Homo sapiens: one gene and its partner. The protein of the gene in region 1 purifies or fractionates together with the protein of each later gene. This does not show direct contact. Each region holds a gene or a part of one and is shown on either strand. Other genes may lie near its edges.

Evidence for each region.
Region 2: the proteins of TMPRSS4 (region 1) and TFRC purify together in Homo sapiens (affinity purification with mass spectrometry, with the first as the bait; one large-scale study listed by BioGRID). This does not show direct contact.

Annotation. Positions count from the first base shown.
Region 1 is NC_000011.10:118,118,578-118,122,077, reverse strand, and holds the end of TMPRSS4 (transmembrane protease serine 4), read right to left. Parts: 3' UTR 188-3,500; downstream 1-187. UniProt on the Homo sapiens protein: Plasma membrane-anchored serine protease that directly induces processing of pro-uPA/PLAU into the active form through proteolytic activity.
Region 2 is NC_000003.12:196,061,591-196,065,090, reverse strand, and holds part of TFRC (transferrin receptor protein 1), read left to right. Parts: intron 1-662; coding exon 663-782; intron 783-2,151; coding exon 2,152-2,237; intron 2,238-2,445; coding exon 2,446-2,509; intron 2,510-3,500. UniProt on the Homo sapiens protein: Cellular uptake of iron occurs via receptor-mediated endocytosis of ligand-occupied transferrin receptor into specialized endosomes. Endosomal acidification leads to iron release.

The DNA of each region.
Region 1 (3,500 bases):
GTATTTGTTTTTTATTCATCAATTGCTACTTTCAATTGTTTTGGAAGTGACACACTTTTATTTCCATTCTTTTGGTGATTACTCTTTTAACTAACCATCTAGAACATAGTACAAACATTTTATGTAACATAACATTAATATTTAACCCTCCTTTTGGACAATTTAAGAACTTCAGAATATTTTAACTCCAGCTATCCCCTTTAATTTACATGCTGCATGCTGTGGTTACTCCATATTTCAGTTAGGCCTTTAAAAATTAACCCACAATGGAAACTTCTTGGTCAAATTTTAACTAGCTAGTATTATATTTATATACAGGGTCTTTTTTCTTTACTGATGTATTTTTCTACTCATAGCCAACCAATAAATTCAATATCTGTTTCAAAAAAAATTAACCCACAAAATAAATATTATTGTTATTTTAATAATATGTAGACACGCCTGTAATCCCAGCACTTTGGGAGGCCGAGGCGGGGGGATCACTTGAGGTCGGGAGTTTGAGACCGGCCTGGCCAACACAGTGAAACCCCATCTCTACTAAAAATTCAAAAATTAGCCGGATATGGTGGCATGTGCATGTAATCCCAGCTACTCGGGAGGCTGAGGCAGAAGAATCACTTGAACCTGGGAGGTGGAGATAGCAGTGAGCCAAGATCCTGCCACTGCACTCCAGTCTGGGTGACAGGGCAAGACTCAGTCTCAAAATAAGAAGAAGAAGAAGAAGAAGAAGAAGAAGAAGTAGACAGAGTGTGTTTAGACTTACCTACATTTTCACAATTGCCTCACTATTGCTACTTGCTTCTTGGTTCTTCCTTTTAGGATCATTTTCCTTCTTCCTAAAGTAAATGCTTTATATATTCTTTTAGAGAAGGTTTGTTGATGGTAAAGTCTGTTTTTGTTTTCTTGAAAATGCCTTTATTCTTGAAAGATAGTTTTGTAGGGTTCACAATCCCTGATTGATTGTTATCTTTTGGCATGCTGGAGATATACTTCCACTGACTTCTAGCTCCTTTATTGCTGTGGGAAAGCCTGTTGTCAGTCTAATTGTGGTAGATTTGTGGTACTGTGGGTGGTCTGGGTTTTCTCTCTGCTGCTATAAGGAGTTTCTTTTTGTCTTTGGTGTTCTGCAGTTTCATTATAATGTACATAGGTGTGGATTTATTCTAATTTTTCCACCTTGGTTGTATGCGTGTACACTATGGTGGTGTATGTTCTGTGGATTCACACCTTTTATCAATTCTGGAACATTCTCAGCTCTTATCTCTTTGGTACTGTCTCTCTCTCATTGTCTTGATTCTCTCTTTCTGGGATTCTGGATATGTTAGAATTTACCATTCTAGGCTTCATTGCTCCTGGCCTTGTTTTCATATTTTTAATCTCCTTATCTCTCTCTGCTGTTAAGCCTAGTCACTTCTTCAATTTATCTTCCAGTTCATTTGTTCTCTCTTAATTGGTGTTTTAATTGTTATTTACCCCATCCACTTAGTTTTTTATTTTTATAATTATAGTTTTTATTTCTAAAAGCTGTATTCAGTTCTTTTTCAAATCTGCCTGTTATTTTTGCTTGATTATTAAGATATCCATTTTTAACAGAAAATAGCAAGTGTTAGGGGGGATATGGAGAAATAGTAACTCCTGCAAACTGTTGATGGGAATGTAAAATGGTGCAGTCTCTATGGAAAGCAATATATCAGTTCCTCAAAAAATTCAAAATAGAATTACCATATGATCCAGCAATTCCACTTCTGGGAATATACCCAAGAGAATTGAAAGCAGGGCCTCAAAGAGATACTTGTACACCCATGTTCACAGCAGCATAATTCACAATAGCCAAAAGATAGAAGTAACCTGAATGTTCGTATAAACAATAGAATATTATTTAGTCTAAAAAGGGAAGAAATTCTGACACATGCTACAACATGGGTGAAACTTGAAGACACAATGTGAAGTGAAATAAAACAAGTACAAAAAGACCAATACTGCATGACTTCACTTAAATGAGGTACCCAGAGTAATCCAGTTCACAGAGACTGAAAGCACAATGGTGGTTGCCAGAGATTGGGAGGAGGGGGAAATGGAGAGTTGTTTGATGGGTACTGAGTTTCTGTTCTGGAGATGGATGGTGGTGATGACTGCACAATAGTGTGAATGTACATAACACCACTGAACTATACACCTAAAAATGGTGAAGATGGCAACTTGTGTTATGTGCATTTGACCACAGTTAAACATGATTTTAAAATGTGGAACTAGTATTCATTTTTTATTCAAATATTTTATAAATTATCATATTGGAGGCCCTATAGTGTGGTAGTTTACAGCATGAACTCTGTATTCCAAGTGCTCACGTTCAACTTACAGTCTATAATCTCAGGCAAGGAGCTTAACCACTTTGTGCCTTAGTTTTTTTAATCCATAGAGTGAGGATAAGAATAATACCCATCTCACAGATTTCTGTGAGTATTAAATGAATCAGTACATGATGAAGCACTTACAATAGTGTCTGGCACATACAAATACTCTGCAAATATTGCTTATTATCATAAGTCTCTAATATTCTGACATCTGAAGCCTTTGGGGTTCTAAATTAGCTGTTTTTTATGCTGCCCACTTAAGGTGTTTTTTATTTTTCAACGTCTCTGATCTTTGATTGTGAGCTCATATTTGGAGGATCTTTGGGAATCCTGAGGCTCTAAATTTGGGAAATTTTCCTCCAGACCATCTGCAATTTGAGACCACATTTACTGCCATCAGTTATCCCTGCTTCATGTAGGAGCCCTGGTTCAGCTCCCTTGTCTTCAGTGTGTCCAGGTTTAGCTCCACTGCCAGCCTTCATATAGGTCTCGACCCAAGATTTTAGTGTATTGCTCCCAGATCATCACCTTAGTTTCCACTCACAGTTCTGATGGTTTTGTTTTATTTTGTTTTGTTTTCTGGGTTTCTATTTTCTTTGTTTTTGGCATTTGAGGAATTCTGTTGTTTCCTAAGAACCTAGTACAGTATGAACAAGTATATTTCATCTAGGATCTGACTTAACTATAGCAAGACAGTCCTCAGAAAACCCAAGCTTTCATACAGATGCCAAAAAAGTCCATGGGGTTTAATTCTTTGACCATTTTGAGTGCAGGGACTTATTCATGCTTACATCCTCACAACTCAGCTTGGGGACTGCCTCACACCTGGCAGCTGATCCTTTTTGTTTTTTAAATGTAAGAAGCCACACTGAGGGCTCTCCAGGCGGAAAAAGTTAGGACACAGGACCAGCATTTCTTTCCAGCCACTTGTGGATCCCTGATTGAATGTCACCCTTGACTGCCTAACTCATCTCTTTCCCAAGTCATAGGTTATCCCTGGCTCCTGGCTGATTATCACAGGCAGGGAGGGAGGGAAAGAGGCAAAGGGAGAAGGCCCTGTGTGGGACTCAAACTTGCTCACCCTGGTTTCTGTAATCTGCAGCTCACTCTTGCTGCCACTCAGCAGATCTGGTCTCCCTAACTCTT
Region 2 (3,500 bases), on another chromosome or scaffold:
GGGTTTCTCCATGTTGGTCAGGCTCCATGAGGTCAGAGCTCCTGACCTCAGGTGATCTGCCTCCCTCAGCCTCCCAAAGTGCTGGGATTACAGGCATGAGCCACCGCGCCCAGCCTATGTGTCAGTTTTATTGGGAGGTAATAAGGCCCTAGGAAATTCTTGTTAAAAATTGACCATTATGACTAGAAAATCTATTCTAAGTTATTGACTAGACCAGTGATAAGCAAATTTCTTAAGGGGGCAGATAATAAACCTTTTGCCAGGCTATACAGTCTCTCTTTTAGCTGTTCAACTCTGTGGGAGCAAGAAAACAGGCACAGACTGTGCGTAGTGAATGGGCATGCGGGCTGTAGTTTGCCAGTCCCTGGAGTTAACTTTAAATGCAATCAAACAGCCAACACTTACTAAGAAATAAGTCCTTGGACTTAAGTAGTCAGTAAATTTAATTAGTAGTGTAGGAAAAAAGTAGCTCTACTAGTAAGGTAAAATTAATATTCTCATGTGAATTTTTAATTCCCAGAGTTTTTAGTCAGATTTGAAGTAAGGCTCTTTTATCCTTAATACATATACTGTGCTTTTACCTTTCTACTGATGTGCTAATTCTAGAAAAGTTTAGAAGCTGATTATATAAGTTCTTTCTTCCTCTTTTTTCTTTTTTAAAGATCACTATGTTGTAGTTGGGGCCCAGAGAGATGCATGGGGCCCTGGAGCTGCAAAATCCGGTGTAGGCACAGCTCTCCTATTGAAACTTGCCCAGATGTTCTCAGATATGGTCTTAAAAGGTAGAGTACAAATTTTGATTCTTTTGAATATTGGTGCACTGCATACAGTTCTAGATGTTATACTGTGCTTTGCTCACTTTGCCTGCATTCCTGTGGTTCTCATGCTAGACTCTAGTTCTTAAATACAAGGCAGATTGTCTTTTGTTGTAGCTGCCTTTTCCTTTGAAACAGCTTTCCATAAAGTGTCTTAACTGTGCTAGAAATCACCAGTTTCTTTGAGACAGTGGAGTTACTGAGCCCTAGTGCTTAGTGTGGTGGATCCAGAGTGATAAGGTGGATCATAGTCCCTAAGCAATCTATTTGAAAGCAGTAGCATACCTCTCTACTCATGTACTGAGGCCTAACAGCTATTGAAATTTTGTTCTGTTTATTCATTTATTCATTTTTTGAGACAGAGTTTCACTCTGTTGCCCAGGCTGGAGTGCAGTGGTGTGATCTCACTTAGCTCACTGCAACCTCTGCCTCCCGACTTCAAGCAATTCTCCTGCCTCAGCCTCCTGAGTAGCTGGGATTACAGGCACCCACAACCACACCCGGCCAATTTTTGTATTTTTACTAGAGACAGGGTTTCGCCATGTTGGCCAGGCTAGTCTCCTGACCTCAAGTGATTCACCCGCCTCAGCCTCCCAAAATGCTGCTAGTGAGCCACCGTGCCCTGCCTCTTTTGTTTATTTTTGAGCCTTTCTGTCCTACTTTCCACTCTTTCACACTCCTACCCACCCACACATTCAAAATCACGTCACATTCTTGAATCTTTGGGTCTTAGGGCAAACTGCAATGCTTAACTTTAATACAGAGTACATTAATGGAGAAAAAGATACAGTGAGGGAAGTGGGAGGGATGGAGGGCAGTGTGATACATGTAACCTCAAAAGGTGCTGTCACAAATATAGTTTCTCTGCAAACTCTTCTTGTAACTTAAATTTGTGAATTTTTATTTTATTTTAGAATTATTTTTTTAAAAATCCAATGTTTGGATTTACCTCTGAAGATTTTTCTCAAGATGTGCATCATCATGCTTACACTGTTTTCAATGATCTCTGGGTCCAGAAGTTAAGGAACTCCAAGAATGAAATTGTGAAAGGGTGACTACTGGCCCCTGCTATGTACTCAAAATCTTATTTGCAGATCTCCTATCTTGCTCTTTGTAGGTTACTTTAAAAAAAATTATTCCTATTCTTTTATTCTTTTACCTGGGGTCTCAAAAAAAGATTTTGTTAGTTTTTTTTTTCTTTTTTGGCTCAGAAAAAAAAGATTTTGGAATCTGCTATCTTGGAATTAGACCTTCTGATTCATCTTAAGTGGGATACCTTCCATCCTTGTCTGTGTATAACCTTTCCTCAGGTAAAGCTAACTTTTTTCTCTTTCAGATGGGTTTCAGCCCAGCAGAAGCATTATCTTTGCCAGTTGGAGTGCTGGAGACTTTGGATCGGTTGGTGCCACTGAATGGCTAGAGGTATTCTTTATCATCCCTTCCCATATTGGACACGAGCTTGTGGGCTTAGGCTGTTGTCCAGAAGTGATGTTTTTATAGGTTTGATTTTACCACTTTTGCCTTTGCGTTTAGTCTCAGTAGAGTCCAGAATTGAAAATGAATCCCTAATGCTACTGTATGTGATAAATAAACAGATTTATACTTATTAGTGTTTTCCCTTCTCTTCTAGGGATACCTTTCGTCCCTGCATTTAAAGGCTTTCACTTATATTAATCTGGATAAAGCGGTTCTTGGTAAGTATCCCTTTCATTAGCTGTGTATGAATTCAGGTAAACTTTTTTGAGATGGAGTTTTGCTCTTGTCGCCCAGGCTGGAGTGCAATGGCACGATCTCGGCTCACTGCAACCTCTGTCTCCCAGATTCAAGCGATTCTCCTGCCTTAGCCTCCTGAGTAGCTGGGATTACAGGTGCTCACTACCACACCCAGCTAATTTTTTGTATTTTTAGTAGAGACAGGGCTTCACTATGTTGGCCAGGATGGTCTCGAACTCCTGACCTCAGGCGATCTGCCTGCCTCGGCCTGGGATTACAGATGTGGGCCACTGTGCCTGGCCAGATAAACTACTTTGAAGTGGAAGAAAGCTTTTTTTTTTTTTTGAGACAGGGTCTCACTGTATTGCCCAGGCTAGAGTGCAGTGGCACAATCTTGGCTCACTGCAGCCTTGACCTCCTGGGCTCAGGTGATCCTCCCACTTCAGCCACCTGGCTAATTTTTTTTGTAGAGATGGGGTTTTGCCATGTTGCCCAGGCTGGTGTCAAACTCCTGAGTTCAAGCATTCTATGTCAGCTGCCCAAAATGCTGCGGTTACAGGCATGAGCCATTGCCCTCAGCCTGTATCTTAACCTTCCTTTAAATAGTCTGTCAAGTTACACAGTGAGCACAATTGCTTGTCTAGAACAGTGGGTAGTTCTCAGTGTGGCCCCCAGATGAGTAGCATTAGGAACTGTTACGAATGCAAACTGTCATGTCTACCCCAGACCTTTGAGTCAGAAATGGGAGTGTTGGTCTAAAAACTGGGCTTTTTGGGCTGGGCGCAGTGGTGCACGCCTGTAATCCCAGCACTTGGGAGGCCAAGGCAGGCGGATCACCTGAGGTCAGGAGTTCGAGACCAGCCTGGCCAACATGGTGAAACCCCGTCTCTACTAAAAATACCAAAATTAGCCGGGTGTGGTGGCGAGTACCTGTAATCCCAGCTACTCAGGAGGCTGAGGTAGGAGAATCAC